4 separate regions of the Homo sapiens genome follow, and regions 1, 3 and 4 are each reported to be linked to region 2. The links are microRNA targets in miRTarBase. Many come from high-throughput screens and were not tested one by one. Region 2 holds a microRNA gene; each other region holds the end of a gene's coding sequence. Distances are from middle to middle.
The links. Region 2 holds the annotated microRNA hsa-miR-548aq-5p (GAAAGUAAUUGCUGUUUUUGCC, at 1,198-1,219, opposite strand). A microRNA usually pairs through its seed, bases 2 to 8, with sites in the 3' UTR of a target mRNA and lowers its output. Matches are read on the target gene's strand: a 7mer-m8 pairs with bases 2 to 8, a 7mer-A1 pairs with bases 2 to 7 and ends in A, and an 8mer does both.

Region 1 (5,766 bases), 58 Mb from region 2:
ATACTCATGGCTTAGCAACTGCTTCTCCAGGCTGGCTTTGCCGCATCTTGATCACCTGCCTGGGGCAGAGGGTGGGCTCAGGCCTCCAGGGAGCCCATCTGCCAACGGGTTCGGTGCCATGGTGTCTGACATCCAGGCACCAGGTGCAGGCCACCTGAGCATCTCTGGGACAGCCCATGAGGCCGACCAGCTGCTCCAAGAGGTACCTACCCCATCGTCACTGGGAGAGGAGCAGGCTCACTCCTCCTGGGCTCGGGCACAGCCCTCTCTCCCAGGCCCGGCCCCTTGATCTGCAAGTGGCACAGCAGGAACAGTTGGTCAGGGAAGGGGACAGTGCTTCCTAGGCTGGCACTCCAGAAGGCAGCTCGGCGCTGGGTGCCCAGCACACACTTAGTACATGGCCTGTGCCATCACAGCACACTAGCTCCTCCCCAGATGCCTTCACCCCTCCACAGTCACCCGAAAGCACAGAGATGAGGCCACTGGAAGCTGAAGGGAGGTGGAAAGACTAGGGCATTCAGGTTATGACCCTGGCACAGGCATCCCTAAGGAAGCTATGAAGGGGAGGAGAAACTAACAGAATGATCCATGGAGTCTGAAAATGAGCCCATGTGACACAGGGGCTGAGGGGGTGACCCTTTGAGCCCAGGAGCTGTTACTTGTCCCTAGCCCAGGCCTTGCTCTCTCTACTTGGAAATCAAATTAATCACAGCTACTGTAGCAGGTGTCCACCTCAGCTAACCCTTGGAGAGGTTGAGACATGCCAGGATGTGCTGCAGTAACAAACAGCCTCCAGTCTTGGAGGCTTAAAGGGTAGGGTTCACTTCTTTTTCTGGTCACATGTTCAGTGCATGCTCAGCAGGGGGATTCTTCCCACTGAGCCCCCTCAGGGACCCAGGCTGGCAGAGGCTCTATCTTTACCACATGCTTCTGCCATCACCGTGGCTGGCTGGAGCAATGTACTGGCCATTAAATTCTCCCACCTGGAAGTGACTGATGCATGCCACCTCTACTCACATCTCAGTAGCCAGCGTTAGTCACACGGCCTCATCCCTCCTCTAATGGGGCAGGGCAGGGCGATGCCCCTCCAGCTGTCCCGAGGGAAACGGCAGAACCTGGGGCTGTCCTGGAGAAGACCCAGTCCCACATAGCGGGGGGAATCCCACCACAGCACACCAGGAATTTTCTAGAATGTTGCTGAGTTTCCACCATGGCCCCATTCTGCTGAGCAGGAGGAAGACTTAACCTCAGTTATGCTTAGGGCTTTTCTGCCTATTCCGTGGATCTGGTAAGGTCTCAGGCTCTTGCACAGTGTCAGGAGGTCAGAGGGAGAGAGGCTCTAATGCCATTTGTTATGGCTGAAGTCAGTCCCCCAACACTCATGCACTGAAGCCCCAGCCCCAGGCACCTCTGCAGGGGACTGCATTTGGAGATTTGGCCTTTACAGAGGTGACTAAGGTGAAAAGAGGCCATTCATTGGGAGTCCTAATCTAATCTGACTGGTGTCCATATAAAGAGAGGAAATTCGGACCCAGAGAGACAGCAGGGACCCCACACACAGAAGGAAGACCACTCAAGAAGGCAGAAAGGGGACGGCTGACTGCAAACCCAGGAGAGGGGCCTCAGAGGAAACCAACAGTGGACACCTTGATCTTGGAATTCCAGCCTCCAGAACTGTAAGAAAATAAACCCCTGTTGTTGAAGGCCCCCATCTATAGTACTTTGTTATGGCAGCCCTGGCAAACCCATACATCACTGGCCATGCGTTCACCCGTTATATCACCATGCTCCAGTGCTCTGGGTGGGTGGACCTGCAGGTCTCAGAGCTCTGCTGCTTCAGGGCCATGTGGCTGGCACTGAGCTTGGCAGCAACTGAGGACCCTGTGTCCAAGGTCTTCTTCCCTAAATTCTCAATGGTGACACCTCTAAGGTGGGTGCTTCACTGACCCACAAACATGAGGGTGCAGTTACTGAGGGAGGAAAAATGGATACCAGTGGCAACCAGTCACCTGCTACCCTGTACCACTAGTGAAGAAACTGAGGATCAAGGAGAAGCTGTGACCTGCCCAAGGTCCACAGTCCATGTGCAGCAGCAGTGGGAAGGTGAGATTAGACTTTGGCCACATACAGTGAACTCTGTCACCACGTTAAGACTCCAGAAACCTCGCATCCAGCCGCTCCTCTGCCTAATGCCTGTTCGCACCCAGACACCACACAGACGTGGTCTGAGCAGGGCTCTTCAGAAAGACTGAAAATGTGACTGGCATACCACGTCAGTGAGGATGTGCCGGTGGGAATGAAAGCTGGCATAGCCTCTTGGAATGGGTGTTTTGGTTCAGATTAGGTTCAACTGTAAGAGAAACATCAAAAGTGGTTTGAACAAGATAGCCACTCATTTCTCTCATACGTTCCAAAAGTCATCTGAAGGTAGGACGTCCGAGGTCGTTACAGATGCACTACAGTGTCCATGACACCGGCTCTCTCTATCCTGTCGCACTGCAATGAGAAACTTCCATTCCCCAGATTACCCTATGGTTCAAGATGGCTGCTATCACTCCAGCCATTATAAGCACATTCCAGTCAGCAGGAAAGAAGGGCCACCTCTTATCTCTAAGGAAGTTGCATGCATACTTACATCCATTGGCCAGAACCCACCTGCAAGGAAGGCTAGAAAATGCAGTCTTTATTCTAGACAGCTGTGTATCTAGCGAAAAATCAGGGATTCTCTTCCAATGGAGAAAAACAACATATATTGGAGGACAACTATTGATCTCTGCAGAAGACTAATAAGAGTAATTAAAACTAATTAAGACTGTGTGCTCCAGCAATTCTACTTGCATGAGTTACCAAAAGCAAATTTATAAGGATTGTTGATGTTGCCTTGTTTGTTGTTGCAAAATTTTTCAGAAACAAAAGGGAAGTGGTTTATAAATTGCCATATATCCATATATATGTAGCTGCAGGGGTGAAGCAGTCCTCCACTTGACATGGAATGATCTCCAAGATCCATTGGAGTGAGCTACAGGACATTAGCATTACAGAAAGAGGGATGATATACACATCCGTTGGTGTGAACACAGGATGGCTCTGGAAGGTTATGGAGACCCTGGGTGCTTCAGGAGGGGGACAGAGGAATTCAGTGCCACACAGGGAGATTTATCGTTCACCAAATACCCTCCTGTACTGCATGAACCTTTTTTTTTCTTGCCATGTACATATATGACCTATTTTTAAAAAACAAACTTAAAAATTATAAAAATGGTCTCTTTTCTTCTGTTGATGCCTCTCTGCTCATTCACTGCAGCCAGCAAACTTCGGCTGACACTGTGCCATCTTGGACTGCATGTGGATCTGATGGTCAAATCCCTGCTGGCCCCAACCCTTACCCCGCTCACTCAGAATGCCGTGAGCTTGCCTTCCCTGATTACCAGGCTTTTACATGAGCTGAGAGGCCCCGATAAAGTATGCCATTCAGGGGCACCCTGCAGTACCCCCTGCAGCCCAGGAGTCCAGCTCACTGGCCGTACTGTTGGCCCTGTCCGCTATCAACCCTCCAGGCCCTCCCAGGGAGCCTGACACATTGGCCCCACAGACATGAGCTGTGTTGGAGCTTGTGCCCTCGGCACCCCATTCCCCCCTAAAAAAAAAAGGCTGATCGCGGAGGCGGGCAACAGCCTGATCCTCAGGGTCCCCACAGCCAGGGCTGAGACCTCCCCAGGCTCTGAAGCATGCAGTTGGCTGTGTCCTGGATGGGCTCCTCCTCTCCAACTCTGGGGATTACATAACTGGCAGCAACTCCCTTTCACTCTGGCTGCCAAAAAGCTCAAAGCCGAACTCAGGTACAAGGGCAGTGGCAGGGACAAGTGGGCCCCTCTCCCCTACTCATGCCTTATGATCCCAGTGCTTTGCTCTGATTTACTCCCATTTTCAGCCAACCACACCCATCCTTATGACAAACATCAGTCCCCGAGTCCTGTCTGCTGGGGGCCTACTATGTGCCAAGCACTATTCTTGAGGCTAAAAATAAGAGCTATCCTTATCGTTCATTACTGTACGCCAGCCACTCGTGCTTAGTGTTTTCCAATCCTTACAAAAGGCCCTGCAGGATGGGTCTTCTCCGCATTTTACAGATGGCAATAGTAAGTCCATTCTGCGTTTTAATGGAGCTGAGCAGAGAGAACCGGCTGCCCAAGACAACAGTGTGTGTCTGACAAAGGGAGAGGGGCTGGCTCACAAAACATAGTTCTCCTCTCTCTCCATGTCTGTCCCCCCTACTCAGATGGGCCCAGGGGCAGGGGCAGCGGCAGCTGGGATCCTGTTTCTCTTCACCTCCCCAGCAGCCAGCCCAGGGCTTGGGCACTGGGGACTGCTCCTTGGTTGAGCAGAGGCCCCCTGAGCCTCCCAGCCCCTCACCCAGCCCTCAGGCTCCTGAAAGGAACCAGCCCCAGTATTCCTGCAAAACCTCCACATTAGCACCTTCTGCTCCTTTTCCTTTTTATTAAAAAATAGATCAAGAAAATATACACACTTCAGTCCATCCACCATGGTGGATGCTTTGAGGAGGCCAAAGCACCATGGGGATGGGATGGAGGCATTGGGAGAGCCAGCCCTGCCCTCGTGCCAAGGGTGCAGAGAAGGAGGGTGCCCTCAGCCAACCTTGCCAAGCATGGCCCTGGAAGGAAAGCCTGGGCCATGTCACTGAGCAGTATGAGAGCAGGTGGGAAGGGGAGGAGGGTCCCCAGTGAGAGCAGAGATGGCAAAGGGGATTGGGAGCCCCAGGGAGGTGGGGCCTCCAGACTCATGGTGGGAACAGGGCCACACAGGGCTACTGCCCACAGAACGTCCCTTGACCTGGTCCTCCTCCCCTGGGGACTCTGGGCCTGCTGGCCTCCTCTCTGGCCTGTCCTCCACAGGCCCTGGCAGCTGCCCTCAGGCATTGATGGCCTTCCAGCGCTCGCTGTCTGTGCTGTTGATGCTGCCAGTGTGGCAGGGCATGGAAGCGATGTCATCCAGGTAGGCCACCCCGCCGGCAGAGTCGAACTGCGTGCTCGAGTAGCTGGCAGCTGAGGCCCCAGCAGCCCCTGCAGCCTCCAGGCCCTCCCGCCGGGCCACAGCGTAGGGCTGGGGTAGGTGTACATCTGGCTCCTCTGTCTCGTCCACTTGGCATTTGTAGGAGAAGAGGATCTTGGGCTCCGAGCTGATAAAAGGAAAAGAGGGGCATGGAAGCCTCACTGAGTGATTCAGGAAGAGCCTTCCTCTCCAGGCTGATGGGGCCACCAGATAAGGAAGGAATTGACCAACAGTCGCCTGACACCCACTCTGAGTGGGCCTGTGAGCTGGACCCCAGAGCCCATCTAGACTTGTTTTGGAACCCAGCCCTCCTCCCCCTGGCTGTGTGAGCTCAGGCGGGGGGCATCTGTGCCTGCTTCCTCATGGTGAAATGGGTGTGTGGACACCGTGTGGAGGAAGAATGGACATAAATCATGAGGCTTCAACAGTGCCTGCCCAAGCACTCAGGAGACATTGGCTGTGGCCTCCGCCCCCACTCCTGTGACCCCTGCTGCTCATGTTACCACCCACTCCACTCTGACCTCGTCCCTCGGCCCTCAGGGCAACTCTCCAAGGGGGACACACTACACCCAATTTACAAAAAGGAGCCTGAGGCTCAGGGGAGAAATTGTGTGCAAAGATCCAAGCTGGGGCCATGGACCAGTCTGGCCCTCTCCCAGCTTCACCCAGGTGGGAGGCTGATCCCCTCCCCACAAG
Region 2 (4,000 bases):
GGTTGTGAAAAATACTTTTTACTGATTTCATTTAATACTTTATAGTTTTCCCTGGTATATTCACACCTATTACTTTCATTTTATCTTCACTCCAAGTCAGTGAGTTATATCCTGTTTAGAGATGAGATCGCAAGTTTGAAAGTGGACTTGCCCAAGGTCATGCAGCAGTTAAGAGGCAAGGCCAGGGCTACACCCCAGTTTTCTGACCTATATCCCAAGGTGTTCACAACACACAGCTGTCTTCTTGGATGCCTGCTAATTGTAGCTGCCGTCTTTTAGACATTCTCTCCACATTTGATAGTTCACCTTAGTGTAAAGTCCCTCCTTCCTAAAATAGGACTGAAAACAAACTGCCCAGCCCCACTTCCTGCTAGGATAGAGACACACAACTGTGGACCCAGTGGCTTCCCAATCTGGCAGAGGCAGTTGTGGGAGAAGCTTCTCGATGGTGGCATAGGCAACAGCTCTCTTGGCAGACCAGTTCTGCAGACTATCAAGAAGCTCCACCTGCAGCCTGTTTCTTCAGCCTGTCCGACAATTCTGTGATCTATCTATATACCTCAATGCATTCTTTTGTGCTTAATCTAGCTACTCTGTGGATTCTGTTCTCCACAACGATGACCAGAGACCAACACAAGTTCAGAAGAAATCCTTATAATACTACAGTGTTTCCTAAAACCTTCCAGAACAACTTCCCACCATCATTACTATCTTCTAAAATCCAATCCCATTTCCATAAGATGTTAAAGGATTCTGTAGTTATGTAAATAAATTATAAAACATCAAGTTAAACAGATTTCTTTACTACAGGACTTCTCAGAGCCTTAAAATGCATGTGTGCTTCACAAATCTCCAAGAAAGGGACAAGTATACAACATTTGAAAAATGTATTTGACCACTGAACCATTTTTTAATATGTCTTACCAGTACAGTAATATATTTGGGGAAATATTGATCAACATACCTTCTACTTGGAAAAAAAAGTTTATAATTATAAAATATTTTAAAATAAGGCTGCTGAAATGAGGAATACAATTCTGGAATATGTTGGGTGAAATTATGGAATGTATTAGGGTTGAAAATGATTTCATGTACTGTTCAGGGGATATATTTTAGTGCAGCCATTTTGGAAAGCATTGGCAATGATTATTTTAGGTTAATGCAAAAGTAATTGCAGTTTTTGCCACTGAAAGTAATGGCAAAAACAGCAATTACTTTCACACCAACCTAAATAGCAAGTGTCTTAATCCTTATATTACTCTTTAATCCAATTATACTTCTAGGAATATTTCCTTAAAAAAATCTGAAATGTGGACAATTACCAGATCCTCAGCCCTTATATACACTTTTGTGACTTTATGCAAAAGAAAAAAATGTTCTCACTTGAGAAAAACACAGAAGGGTACTGCTTTGTCTTTCTATTCAGGTCATAACTTCCTTATGATTGAGGGAAAAGAGACAAAGGGGCTGTTATTTTCTTAGTGGCATCATGACACTATATAAACATTTATTTAGCTCTTTACCTCCTACAGAAAAAGGAAAAAGGAAAGTTGAGAACTTTCCCAAGAGTATCTCTATTGTTAATTAAAACATCCTCAGCCAGATGCATGGCATCCCTGTAAGTGAAACAGTGAAGAACCTGGGCGACATGAGTATGTAGTTAGAGGTGTCACGATGCTGAGCTAACCCGAGGGCTGATGATGAACTACAAACCTTCAGGATAGATTTTTTTCTGTGGGATTCAGTTTAACTTGGTAAAGAATATGATAATGATAAAGAACTGCATGTTAACCCTTTTAAGTCAATCTAAGTATTTTTAAAAGGTCCTTTAATACTACTTAAATATTTAAATTATATTTTGAATATGTATATACTTAATACATATAAAAATGATATAAATTTTCTGTCTAATTCTGTGGAGGACTGAAGGAAGCTTCAAATTCAGCAATTTGTAGATTCAGATCATGTGACTAGGACAGCACTGCCCTCTAGTGGTGGAGTATCATGCTTTCACTTTGAAGCTTCTGATAGATCAATAAGCACCTTTAAAAGGTTGAATCTAAGCCAGGCGTGGTGGCTTTTACGCCTGTCATCCCAGCACTTTGGGAGGCTGAGGCGGGTGGATCACCTGAGGTCAGGGAGACTAGCCTGACCAATATGGTGAAACTCCATCTCTTCTAAAAATACAGAAATTAGCCAGATGTGGTGGCATGCGCCTGTAGTCCCAGCTACTCAGGAGGCTGAGACAGGAGAATTGCTTGAACCTGGGAGGTGGAGATTGCAGTGAGCTGAGATTACGCCACTGCACTCCAGCCTGGGCGACAGAGTGAGACTCCGTCTCAAAACAAATCAAAACAAAAAAAAGGTTGAACCTGGGCGGGGCGCGGTGGTCCACGCCTGTAATCCCAACATTTTGAGAGACCAAGGTGGGAGAATCACTTGAGGCCAGGCATTTGAGATCAGCCTGGGCAACACAGCAAAACCCCCACCTCTATAAAAATTTTTAAAAATTAGCTGAGCATGGGGAGGCTGAGGAGGATGGGAGGATGGATTAGGCCAAGGAGTTGAGGTGGAAGGAGGACTTGGCCCCTCGAGTTTGAGGTTGCAATGAGACATCCATGATCATGCCACTGCACTCCAGCCTAAGAGACAGAATGACACCCTGTCTCCAAATTTTTTTTAAAAAAAAGGTGAATCTATTGTTTAAAACGGAAGTTATAAAGAGACAGCAAACACTCAGAAGAACCTGTAACTCTTAAATAGTGAATGCCATAACCAAGTAAAGGTATTCAGCTCAAAGGCCACTCTTCAATTTGCTCTCAAGTGCATTTTACAGACAGAGAAATCATGGTCTCCAAAGATTAGAAATGGCCTGGCACGGTGGCTCACGCTTGTAATCCCAACACTTTTGGAGGTTTGAGGCAGAAGGATAGCTTGAGCCCAGGAGTTCAAGACCATCCTGGGCAACATACCAAGATCCTATTTCTACAAAAAATTTTAATTAATGGTGATGCACACCTGTGGTCCCAGCTACTCAGGAGGCTGAGGTGGAAGGATCGATTGAGCCCAGGAGGTCAATGCTGCAGTGAACTGTGGTCACTGCCACTGCACTCCCGCCTGGATGATAGAATGAGACCCTGTCTCCAAAAAAAAAAAAAAAAAAAAAAAGAAACAATTTCATCTCAGTCACAAAACCACATGAACCAAGAGGTCTGTGTTTCTGTCATGCTTACTATCTATTAGGCAAAATCCACAAACCATCTTTTCACATTTTATCTCTAAAGAAGTGCCAACTGCCTATAGCAGCAGCCACTGTATCCCTCTTCCCAAAGTTCGGCCCCTGGGGACCAGAGGCCCACACAAACCCAATAAGATCTGGGAACCCCTGGAAGGGAAACGAATCCTGAGCCTTCTCTCTATGTCCTCAAGGAAGCAGAACTGGGGGATGGTCTCTCTCTTAGGCTCCTATGTCAACAGAATCTACGTCTCATAAGAAGGGATGTGGTGGCGGGCGTGTAATTTACATCAGAAAAATGAAGTCTCTACCCTTGCTCTGTCATAGCACACCACATAGTTAGGACTCAGGACTGGTCGAGCAGGACCGGCCAACCCGAGGGAGCATATCTGGTGATTTACGGGAAACTCCAGTTCTCTCAAGGAAAATGGGATGTGATAGGAAAAGCAAAACCAACGAACAGAGATTCACCATGTCAGAGTGAGAAAGAGTAGTGGGTTATATTTAAAAAGGATTTTATACATTGGAAAGTATTTTCACAAGCATCTTATTTGCTCCTTTGGTTATGACCCCATAGGCCTTTATTCCAAGGCACCAGATTTTAAAAAGACTGAGAAGTTAAATGGCTTGCCTGTGTAATCTGGAAAATTGGTAACAGACTCAAGACTCACCCAGAGTCTGTTATGTTTCCCATAGCACCTGTGACACCCAAGGTGGAGGTGCCTTAATTACCAGCACATACAAATTATGAGAGGAGGAGCCCCT
Region 3 (6,103 bases), not on the chromosome of region 2:
TGAGGAAGCATTAATAGAAAAGCTATTTATGAAAATGACCTGAGTATCATTTCATTAAACCACAAAATGTAATAAACAAATCAGGAATTGAGTATTAATTTGCATTCTATTAAAAAAAATCAGTTCACATGGACATTCCTTCCCTGTCAGACTAAATTTGACTTTTAACACTAATCATACTGATTTCTATTATAAGCTATCAACTTGTACATAATAGTTTAAATTTATGAATAATAGCAGGCCTGTATTTCTTTTGATCAGTATTATACATTGAAGACTGGATTGGAAAGCCAGGGACTTGGATTCTAACTACAGGTAAGTTACAATAAATATGTTGCTAAACTATTCATTTGATCTCTAGAACTGTTTATCTTTAAAACAGCTGGTTAAAACTAGATATCCGGGTTCCTTTTCAGTTCAATTATTTCTTGGTATTAACTATATCTGCATAACTTAAAATTACTAATGAAATAATTTCCACACTCAGGAAAAAACTTTGAAGCTGATTTTTATAGAACTGAAAAAATGCATTGAGTGCTTCTCCAACTTATGTCCAAATGCATCACCTGCCAATCTTGTCAAAATGTAGATTCAGTAGGCTCATAGACTGAGTTTCTAATAAACTCCTAGGTGATACTAATTTGCCACTGGTCTGGTGACTATATTTTTAATAGGGAGGTTCTAGGATTTGAAGAAAAGTAGTATTGACCAGCTAGGCTAGTCTAGATATTAGAGAAAGCAACTATGACCACGAATAAAACAACACAAATATATGCTACAAAATTTCTTGATAAAATATATCTGGGATCTGCATTAATAAAGGAGATGAGAATTGGGTGGAGGAAACGAGGAAGATCTAAGTTGCTAACTGAAGCTGACAAGGGTTTGTTAAATATTCTTCTATTTTTTGTATGTTTGAAATATCTAAAAATGTTAAAATTTTCTGATTCAAAAACCTATACAACATACCAAGACAATAAACCAAGTGAATGAAAATAGAGATGCCACATAGTCTTTCTGTCCATTGAAATGGGAGCCAAAGAGGGAGGAAGAAAAGCGAGAGAAGTGCAAAACGGGTGGCTCTGTGAAGCTACAAAGGGTATGTTTGTATTTAAGGACCTTACACATAATTCAGCGTCTAAAATACCAATGATATAGCTCCTTGTTTACATCCTTAAGAGAAACCTGAGGCCCAAATGACTTATTTCTTAAACACAATTTAAAATCCTTGTTAAAAATTGGTTAAATGTCATGAGATTTGATAGGGGAATTATCAATGTCCAAACAGTCTGTTAAAAATTATAAAGTGTGTTTTGAACAATATTGTACTATTTAAACACCCAATATCATATTATTTGCCATTTTTATAACTAGGCAAAACAAGAAATTTAGCCTACAGAATATAGGACAAATTCCTCTTGAAAAGCAACCACTGAATAATAAAATACTAAACTGAAGGTAACAATTACCTCTTGGGAAAGAATAAGGTTTGAACTAAGATCAGAAAGAGGTTCATATGGGATTTCAGTTCATTCTGTAACGTTTTCTTTCAACTAATATATAATTACGTTTAAAATATGGAATATGTTAGGTAGTGATATAGTTGAGTGAAGTGCATAGGTGTTCATTACGGTTTTATTTTTCCGCGTATTTGAACAGTTCTTAATGTGAATAATCTAATACTCTATAACTTTAACATGTACACTTTTATTTGCAAAATCTGAAACTAGAAAATTTAAAGGGAAGCTATTCAAAATAACAAAGAATAACTATAAAACTAAGGTTTTGCATAATCAATGAATATTACGGTTTAAAATTAAGACTTTCTGCTGAATTCTTGCCATCAGATTTCCTAGTATACTCAATTTCACTGAATTCTGTACTTTCTTCTGAATGAAAAAAACGTTTTCAGATTTAGGCTCCATTTTAATATATTAAGGCAGCCAGAAAATCCTGTTTGAAGTTCAGAGCTGCTCATGAGAGTATGTCTTTCTTCCTTAGCCTTGAAATTCCTGAGTGTTAAAATTACCTGTTTCACAGCAACTTTTTTATACATATGAAATCTTAAGTGCAGTCTATAATTAAATATGTGCATTTTATGATTGGGCTATCAAGTTCAAACAGAAAATATAAAGCTAAATCCATGGTTTCTTTTCATCTGGCTTGGGATGCTCTCTATAACTGCATTTTACATCTTTCTGCTTTATGAAACTAGTAAATAATTTTAAAACATTAGTATTTCTTTGTAGCAAAAAGACATATTAGGATAACATGTATTGTGGATAATGAAGTTTACTGTGGGCAAATCTGGCAGTCTGGGAACTGGCATTAGTTAACTAATTGCATAGCATTCCTTCACTTATCCTATTTGAGCCTCTGTAATAATCCTGTGAGGGGAGCAGAGCAGAACTTATTGCCTCCATTTTACAAATAACATTGAGGCTTTGAAAAGTGATTTGTCCTTTCCCTAGTAATTATATGGTGATACAAATAGATGTACATGAATGAATTAAGCTAATCACCATAATTTCACTATACTAACCTTAACTCTAGGAGCTAAAATGCTTCCAAAGTGTTAATTTAATCTCTAATATAATGATTCATTACACTTCCTGGTTAAGGAAAAATTTTCTTCATTGCTTTCAAATGCTAACGTTAAATATAAACTGTAGATATCTCTTCCTTAAGTAGGTACTTTAAAACCCATTTCCAAAATACATCTTCAATACCAAAAAATAATTTTTCTGATTATTTCTAAATATTCAAGTTAAGACCTCTATTAACAAAGCAGCTAAGTCCTAAGAATACTTGTTAGCTTGTTCACTCTAAGAGTCATAGAGTACTAATATACGACAAAGCTGTTTTTATTTTTACCTAACTTTTAATAAGCAATTCACTATATGCCAAGGCCTGGGTTAATTTGATGTACTGAATTAAAAATATTCTAGAATGTCAAAATCCCCCTTTAGTGACTTGGTGCTTTGGAAGGAAGGCCGTATTAGGGCATACTGTAAGACAGTATAGAATCTGCTGTAGTCCTTAGGCAGGAAGAGCTGGTTTCTGGTTATCTCCCACTAGGGAGACTGGGAACTCCCACCAGCTTAGCAACTGGCACAAACTAAGTCCACACACACAGCTCAGGACTTAGTTTCTCCTTCCCAAGGCAATCCCACCCACAATGAGCACCTGAAAAGGTGACAGAACCTACTTTCAAATATTATAGCCACCACTAATTACTGAGAAAAACTTCACCTTGAGAAGCTTTGTTCAATTACTATTCACTAACCCTGGTATTGGTTTTTTAGACTTTAGACTTATCTGATGCTGGTAGAGTTCCTCTGTGCTACGATGTTATTTTAAGAAAAAAACACAGATCACCTAGCTTCCAAATCATCCCAGACTGTTGACTCTAATGGTTCTTCTTCAGATGACAACAGTGACACTAGTGTAAACAAAATTATTTTACTTATTATATTCTTCTTTCTTGGAGGTAACTGAATTACTACATTAAGTATAGTAAAACATATTTTATGTTCCTTCATTTACTTTTTATTATCCTATGTGTAAGTTTTGCATAAGTGTGGGATATTTTATAACAGAACAAACCTAAGAAACATGTGTAACTCCAAAGTTATTTGATACCAATATATCTGTTTAGAAAAACTGACCGAAATATTTTGAATATAAATAGCACCCTAATTGTAACTGCTTAACAAGTTACAGTAGTAACATCCTCAGTTGTTAAATGCAAATTACTCTAAGTTTTTAAATACTTGAATGTATATCATTCTTCCCACCCAAGGCAAAAGCAGATATGCTGATATGCAGATATGCTGCTCTTTCTTCCCAGTAATATCAAGTTCTTTTTGTTAACTCACAAGGTAGTCTAAGATTAGTAAGAAATCTTTAGCAGACACAAAAGATGAAAGATGAAACTGCAGCAAGAGAGCATGGCAAATCCAAAAGATCTATTAGTGCATAAATCTACTGGAAAAAAAAAAAAAACAACAAGAACAAAAGAGATAGAATTAACAAGCTACAATAAAAGTTATGTCTTTAAAGCAGTAGATTATAACAGGGTGGGAAATGTTTAATATGTGTCCTCCTGAAAAGCAGTTACCATCTTTTAAATTAAAAAAAACCAGCTGGTATATTTTCACAGCATCTAGATTTATTTATGGTATAAAGCCATAGAATTGTAATATTATTACTCCTTTCCCACCCTGGCAGAGAATAAACATGAATTCAGAAGCACAGTGGAGTGAAAACAAAGAAGAGGAGAGAGAAAAGGCAGCAGAGAAAGACAGAAAAGGTGAATATAGAGCTACAGAAGTGTTTATTGAGCATGCTACAGGGGTAAGCAGAGTACACACAAAATGAAATTAAACAACCATCAAACCTCCCAACTTTGTTAGAAAATTAATTTTTAATTGTGCCGCTTTCAAACTATACTGAATTTTACATTTCTAAAGATGTAAAAACTCAACTAATAGAAAATATACATGACCATTCTGTCTACATAGATAACAGAATCTATGAATCTTGAAACTAAGTACATCAATTTCAAAAAGTATTGGTCATTTAAACAGAATCAACAATTCGGATTGACAAGAACTGTTCAAATTAATTTGACCTGTAGATTCTGAGCCATGTTTTTATTAAAGTCAGATCTATTCCTAAATACAAAATATTTTGAAGATTTATTAAAACTGAATATTACAATGCAAGGTAAATTAAGACTAAAGGCACATAAACTTTGGTCCCACCTGGTTGTCAGTTTTAGAAAACTGCCACAAAATTAATCTTCCTGCATATTTTCGCAGTACACTTTCTTTATCTTTGAAAAATACATGCACCAGTTCCTGAACTAGCTAGACCAGTCTGCACATGCTCAGAAATCCACAACCATATTCCAAATCTTAATTACAAACTAAGGATGGCAATATATATTTAAATGCACGTAAGTCATGTCAACTTCAAAAACATCTACGAAAAATATTCAGCCACAAACAAGACATTACTTAGTGCTGACATTTATATGATACGTCCCACAAGAGTGTGTACGAAAAGGTTAAGATTCCACAATGCTTTCCACATAGGGCTCAAACTTACAGAAATCACTTTGTTGTCTTAAGAAATTAATACTCTGCATCTTGTTAATTTTAACTAATGCCTACATTCATAACTGAATCTAGACCAGAATTGTGAGATACAAAAGGCCAATGTTGTTTTCAAAGCAATAAAGCCTAAGGTAGTAAAAACTAAAAATGCTGCTTTATTCTTTCAATATCATGTATCTTATTTGATTAAATAGAAAAAAAGGTGACAAGCCAGTAATTCAAAATAAGTTCCAAGCAGGAGAAACAAAAACTTAACCTTTTTACACACCCCTGCCTAAACATATTTTAATTCCCATATAACAGTGTGCCCTAAACAACCAATTCCTTTTTTCTAGTAAATGCACAATAGCAACACTAGTTTTCCTTTTTAAGGCACGTATGTCAACTAAGTTGAAAGGAAAAAAAAAAAAAAAAAAAAAGCAAAATTAAACTGAAATTTTAAACAGACAAAATGGCTTCCCTATAGAACAGATGAAATATAGCAGTTAACAACTCTGCCTTTACATATGCCATTTCATTTTATAACCAAGGAATGATAACAGCATGGAAAAAAAAAAGAAACCCCAAAAAAACAAAAACAAAAAAAATCAAACTCTGGTCCCCACTTTTCTGAACAGTCAAATAGGTGATGACATTGAACAATGTGATTCACCCCCAATCTTCATCTTCCCATTTTTAAATTGTTGACTTGGAGAAAGACACTCTCAGATGATGGTTTTCTCCAAGGTTATAATTATGAAGATCAATCAAGGCCTGAATAGCTTCTTCCACTGTTGCCATCTGAAGAAGAGCCATTTTGTGATCTCTTCTGAAACAAAATTATAAAATTAGACACTTCATACAAATTAGAAAGGGCTTATTAAATACTTGAATTTTGGCCATTCCGGAATCAAAAATTTCTATAAACGAAAAGAACAAAAACTACTTAAAAATTTTATCAGGTCACTAATTTAAAGATAAGGAAGCTTGCTTACTGAAAAAAC
Region 4 (6,151 bases), not on the chromosome of region 2:
ACTCCTTTGGGTTTTTAACCCTTTTTCTGTGCTACGGATCCTCTGTCAGTCTGGTGAAAACTAGACCTGTCTTGAGACTAGTGCTTTTAAATGCATAAAACAAACAAAAACAGCTATGAAAGAAACCCACTCTACATTACAGGACCGCAGATGCAAAAGCCCCTCTGCTCTATTTGCCACAGTGAAAAAAGATGAGAAAATGTGGAAGGCCATAGAAGGATCCCAGGGAACTGAATCCCGAGGTCCAATTTACTCTCAGTGGCAGCAGGGAGACCTGGGGCTGGGACAAGCCAGCCCTAGGGGGCGTGTCTGAGGACGCGGAGGGAGGAGACGCGGGCCCGGGTCTGGGAGGAAGGTGGGAGAATCTTCCTTCCAAAGCGCGCAGGGCTGCGCTCCCCACGGCGTGGCCCACCCCCGCCTCACCGGTCCCCGCCGTCCCCAGCAGCCGCTCGGGCACCCCTTGTAGGTCTTCATGGAGGCCGCGGAAGATCTCGTGCAGCTTCTCGAAATGCTCCGAGGAGGCGGCGGAGGAGGCCATGGCGCAGGCCGCGCTGGAGCAGCGGCCACCGAGATTCGGGGCCCTGGGCCCTTTCCTAGCCCGGCGGTCAGCCGCCCAGCCCAGTGGCCATAACGGCGACCGCCGCACCACCGCCGCCCAGGACGAGGCTCTTCCGGAGCCGCGGCAGGGTCCTCTCGAGCCGGAACGCCCACCTTCTCCAGCCAGTGATTGCTGGAGCGCCGGCGCGAAAGCCTGACGAGAAGTCGGGAGACTGCGCGGCCTAGGCGACTCCTGAGGGAGCGGTGCCGCGCCGGGGCGATCGGCAGTCGCGGAACCCGAGAAGTGCCGGGTCCGGGTTGGGGAAAGGCCGCAGCGAAAGGGGCCTAGGGGACCTGCGGGACTGGCAGCGCGGCCGCCTTCCTCCCGGGCCCCGCCGGCCGGCGAGGGGCGGGCGCTGCAGTGCACGCCGGGGGATGTAGTTTGGCTCGGACGAGAGCGTCTCGTCCCGGGGTCGCGCGTTGCTCCGGGTGCCAGGTTCAGCCCGCGCGGCGACAGCGGGCTTCGGCCCGATTTGATGTATGTTTGCGTCTAGACGTCGTCCTCACTGTCATCGCGCTTTGCTTTGCCACCCTGACCCGAATTCCTCGTTTCGCGTCTTGACTGTTAGCTTTCGGCCCTGGAAAGATAGCCGGGCCAGGGGCTCTGCCTGCCGTCGGGAGGTGGAGCACTTTTCTTGGAAGGCCCAGCGGCTCCCCAAGCTTTCAGAAGTGGAACCCGGCCGGGCGAGTGGCTCGCGCCTGTAATCCCAGTACTTTGGGAGGCCGAGGTGGGAGGATTGCTTGAACCCAGTAGTTCGAGACCAGCCTGGGCACAATAGCGAGAGCTCTACCAGAAACCCAAAATAAGAACCGGGCATGGTGGCGCGCACTTTTGGCCCCAGCTACCCCCGGAGGCTGAGGTCCCACCACTGCACTCCAGCTTTGGGAGACCTTGCTCCCAAGTGGAGCGAGATCTTGTCTCCAAAAAAACAAAAAACCCAAAAACCAAAAATTCAAAAGTGGAACCCAGTTAGGATGACCTCGAAATACTCTAGCTGCTAGGCCCGAGTAATTCTCCTCGTGGAGACTAATTCTCCTCCTAGGCTGCCTCGTGCACTTGTTGACAACAGGTGTTTGTCAAGCGTAGGCATTGCGAGGGATCTGGGCATGTTGGTGAATAAAACATTTAATCTCTGCTCCAGGGGAATTTATAATCTGGTGTGGAAGGTGGGCCTGGCTTCATTAGGTCTCATCTGCCACTAAGTGTCACGTGTTAAAAATTACAAGGTCCCTTCTTGCACTCCATGGGTATAAATTCCTGTCTTCACGTCGGGCATGGTGGCTCACGCGTCATCCCAGCACTTTGGGAGGCCGAGGCGGGCGGATCACTTCAGGTCAAGAGTTCAAGACCAGCCTGGCCAACATGGTGAAACCCCCGTCTCTGCTAAAAACACAAAAATTAGCCAAGCGTGGTGGTGGGCGCCTGTAACCCCAGCTACTCGGGAGGCTGAGGCAGGAGAATCGCCTGAACCCGGGAGGCAGTGGTTGCAGTGAGCTGAGATCGTGCCACCACACTCCAGCCTGGGTGACAGAGAAGACCCTATCTCAAAAAATTAAAATAAATTATTATTTTCACCGATTTCACGGTTTGCTCAAGGTGTCTGTTCTCAAATGTTTGCTTGGGAGTTCAATTTTAAACTGCCTACAAATATTAAAAGATGTATGACTGCTCAGGAGAAAATGCTTTGCTAATTTGTATCTCCTGGGCCCTCATTTTTATTAGATCAAGTTCATTGGCTGTTGATTCAACACACTTTGGTTAAGCTCTTAATATGCACTGAGCATAGACATGACCAAGTCTGAGGATAGTCAGTATACTGTGTAAGTCCCACAGCACAATGCTGGGACTTGTCACAGTACAGAAATAAGGGGCAGGTGCAAAAAAAGGATCAATAGCCTGGGGCCGGGTGCTGCGGCTCACACCTGTACCCCAGCACTTTGGGAGGCCAAGGTGGGAGGATCGCTTGAGCCCAGAGTTTGAGGCCAGCCTGGGCAACAAAGCAAGACGCTGTCTCTAATTAAAAAGAAAGGAAAAAAAAATGGCCCGGGATGATCAAGAAATGTGGAAAAAGTGTCTGTGAAGAGTGTCAAAAAAGGTTAAGTAGGAAATGGTGAATGAACAATTAGATTATCACACAACCTAAATTAATAGCATGTGGATTGAGATTACACTGTAGCTAGACTCTGGAACAAATTATTCTTTAGAATGAGAAATCATTGCACAACCATAATAATGAACAGTGTTTTCTTCTTTTGACTGTAATCAAACTTTTAATTCTTAGTTTTTATTCTGGTAAATGAAAACAAAAAATAATCAAAAAGAATTTTTATTTGTCATTGACAGTTCAATATAAATTAAGTAAAACATTAATTCATTTATTCTGCACTATTATCAGAATTTTTCTAATTTTTCCGTAAAATGACCATTTCTAAACATATAGCTTAATGGTCAAAACAAGTGCAATAAAAGATTAATTTACAAGTATCAGAAGTGAAGACTGTGGTCCTATAACTCTTTCCCCCACCAAAGTTAAAATATAATTGTCATTCCAGGAAATCAAAATCTTTTAGAATAGCACACTCCAAACAAGTGATGGGAACACTACTAATTCCTTAGACTTCCTTTGGCAGCATTACTTTTGATAAGAAGTCTCCAAATAAAATACAAAATTTTGGCACAGACATTTTAATCTTGTCAAGACAATGTAAGGAAATGCCCCAAAATATTATTAAATTGACCATAATTACCAATATCAGTCCCTAAGATAATTTTTCTGAATGAAGAATTGTTTTTTTTGTTTGTTTGTTTTTAGGATTTTTTTTTTTTTTTTTTTTTTTTTTTTTGCCACACTGGTTTTTGTTAAGACCTCATCAGTCCTGGGTGCTTGCCCTCAATTCCTCCATAGCTATGTTAGCATATTTAATATCTTTTGCTATTAATCCTTAACTAGTTAATCCTTAAAGGGCTAGTTAATCCTTAACTAGTCCCTTCATTTTGTGCATTATCTTCCAGTATTCTCCTTCTCTTTTTTTACTTCTTCCCTGCTACCCATGTGCTCTTGGTGGGTAGTTACCAACATATACAGAATCTGCTTCCCTTTGCAGCATTTCATTTGCATAAAGACTGGATGGCACTGGTTTGCTCCATCTCTGATTATTGTGGCTGTTTTGAACTTTGTGAAAATACTCCCTTGGCACACATAAACAGGAAGACACACAAAGATATACACAATTTTTAGTAGAGGTGGGGTTTCACCATGTTGGCCAGGCTGGTCTTGAACTACTGACCTCCGGTGATCCACCATGCCTGGGCAAGCCCTGCTCCTGAGCCAGTCTTTGTTATTCATGTTAAGCTGAGGTTGCAGTGTGGCCCTCTTGAAGTGAAGACTGGTTGGTTGGGAGGAACTGAATTGTGAACAAAGAAGCTAGTTCAAATTTGCATAAATCATCCCTGCTATAGCTTAGATTCTCCTAGGTAGTAGTTTCTTTCAGAAGGAAAATGAGCTGTGCAGGTCATATGAGGGTCTTCTTATCCTATTATGATATCTCTAGTAACTCTGGCAGTAACAGAAGCAAAGTAAATCTGGACATGACAGACATTTAGACGAATCTGGCAGTACACTGAGTTTTAACTGGACACCAAGCAGGCAAGGCTGGAAGGTTTTGCTCTCTTTGTGCTAAAGGTTTTGAAAACCTTGAAGGAGAATCATTTTGACAAGAAGTACTGTGTAGTCTGCTGCAGTCTTCTCTTGGGTCCAACTGGCACTGCCTGTTAGTCTATTGGGAGGCCCAGCAGGTCACAACTGACGTCCCACAGCCGCCTTGCTATAGTCTCATTACGAGCTTGGGCAGAGACCCATGCCACATGACAGTCACTGGAAGGTAAAGAGAAAGGTATGAAGCACAGTGTTAAGAATGAAGTCTGCCATCTGCCAGGGATAAGGAATATGACATAAAAACAACTAGGGATCACATGTTCTCCATGTACTTCACAGGGCCAGTGTTTGTCCTTATCTCTTCATTCTCCAGTCCTTAGCCAGAGAAAATGTAATTACCATTTTAGATCTCCTCGCTAGACCACCTCTCATCAGAATGCTTTGTTTGATATATAATGCATACATTTGGTCTTTATATTCCCCTATTTATATAATTTAATATTAGTGCCTGCCTGACACCCATGTATATCCATCTTCTTCAAGTAAGTCCATAAGGCCCATTCTACAGAGCCTTGGACAATGTCATATAGCTGAGATCCTGCTATTCACATTGGTCAGAGATGCCTGGAGTAGTAAAAAAAAAAAAGAAATGCTTATTTCTGGACTCCTTGAAGTTATACTGTTAGTAAACTCATATGAGAAGTAAAGCCAGCTTCGAAAACAACAAAAGGAAAAGGCGACACAGAAAAGAAATGGTAAAACCAAGGTACGAGGTGTCTTGGTCCATTTTGTGGTACTGTAACAGAATACGACAAACTGGGTAACTATAATGAGCATACAGAAACTGGCTTATGATTATGGAAGCTGAGAAGTCCAAGATCAAGGGGCTGGCATCTGATGAAGGCCTTCTTGCTGTGTAATAACAAGATGGAAGGCATGACATGGGCAAGAGAGGGAAGGGGACACAAGTCATCCTTTAATAAGGAACCACTCCCAAGATAATGAACCCGTTCCAGAGATAATGGCATTAAACCATTCATGAGGGCTGCCCTTGTGACCTAATTTACCTCTTAAAGGCCCTGCCTCTCTATACTGTTGTATTGAGGCTTAAGTTTCCAACATATGAACCTTGAGGGACACATTCAAATCATAGCAAAGTGTTTCATATACCCTCTCTTCATTGCTGTAATTAATTCCAAGTTTTTTTTTTTTTTTTGGAGGCGGAGTCTCACTCTGTCGCCCAGGCTGGAGTGCAGTGATGCGATCTCAGCTCACTGCAACCTCCGCCTCCCAGGTTTGAGCAATTCTCCTGCCTCAGCCTCCAGAGTAGCTGGGATTATAGGCGCCTGCCACCATGACTGGCTAATTTTTGTATTTTTAGTAGAGACAGGGTTTTGCCATGTTGGCCAGGCTGGTCTCGAACTCCTGACCTCAAGTGATCCACCTGCCTCGGCCTCCCAAAGTGCTGGGATTACAGGCATGAGCCACTGCACCCAGCCTGTAATTCCAAGTTTTATAATTTTATAATTCCGATGCAGAAAATTTTCTTAAGGACAATTCTGACTCATTTTTGTATTCTCTGGATCTGGTATACATCTGGTAAGCATTCAGTCAAAGTTTTAAAAAAAATGATTGAATGTATTACAATCTTTAGTCATGTGAGGAAACAATTTTTAAAAGTATACTATTTCAAGAAAATTGCTTCCTCAGTATCTAAGCAAATTCTGAAGGTGAAAGAGTTGACAAGTCTGAATTAACTATATATGCAAACTCTTAACACTATGTCAAGTAAGACAGTGGGATTCAAAGTGTGCACCACAAACCAGCAGCAGGAGCATCAACTGGGAGCTTGTTAGAAATTCTCCAGCCCTACTCCAGACATACTGAATGAGAATCTC

Region 1: miRTarBase lists TPRA1 as a target of hsa-miR-548aq-5p. Seed matches in the 3' UTR shown: 7mer-A1 at 3,459-3,465.
Region 3: the mRNA of PTBP2 is a reported target of hsa-miR-548aq-5p. The part of its 3' UTR that is shown has no 7-base or 8-base seed match.
Region 4: miRTarBase lists RDH11 as a target of hsa-miR-548aq-5p. Seed matches in the 3' UTR shown: 7mer-m8 at 4,172-4,178.

Annotation. Positions count from the first base shown.
Region 1 is chr3:127,568,592-127,574,357 of GRCh38, forward strand. It overlaps TPRA1 (transmembrane protein adipocyte associated 1), which reads right to left. Exons shown (of 11, transcript NM_001136053.4): 11 at 2,641-5,197. The coding sequence ends at 4,930. Among named protein-coding and RNA genes, the nearest start is that of MIR6825, 3.9 kb to the right of the region's middle.
Region 2 is chr3:185,766,686-185,770,685 of GRCh38, forward strand. MIR548AQ (microRNA 548aq) reads right to left here and starts at 1,219; the gene lies at 1,162-1,219. The region is part of intron 2 of IGF2BP2 (insulin like growth factor 2 mRNA binding protein 2); the gene reads right to left. RefSeq lists enhancers at 2,621-3,121, 3,122-3,622.
Region 3 is chr1:96,813,098-96,819,200 of GRCh38, reverse strand. PTBP2 (polypyrimidine tract binding protein 2) reads right to left here. Exons shown (of 14, transcript NM_021190.4): 13 at 6,095-6,103; 14 at 4,152-5,925. The coding sequence ends at 5,796. Among named protein-coding and RNA genes, the nearest start is that of PTBP2, 94 kb to the right of the region's middle.
Region 4 is chr14:67,673,952-67,680,102 of GRCh38, forward strand. RDH11 (retinol dehydrogenase 11) reads right to left here. Exons shown (of 7, transcript NM_016026.4): 7 at 2,849-4,472. The coding sequence ends at 4,370. VTI1B (vesicle transport through interaction with t-SNAREs 1B) reads right to left here and starts at 681. Exons shown (of 6, transcript NM_006370.3): 1 at 424-681. The coding sequence starts at 538. It also overlaps a transcript of GPHN not described here. RefSeq lists silencers at 356-465, 566-1,005.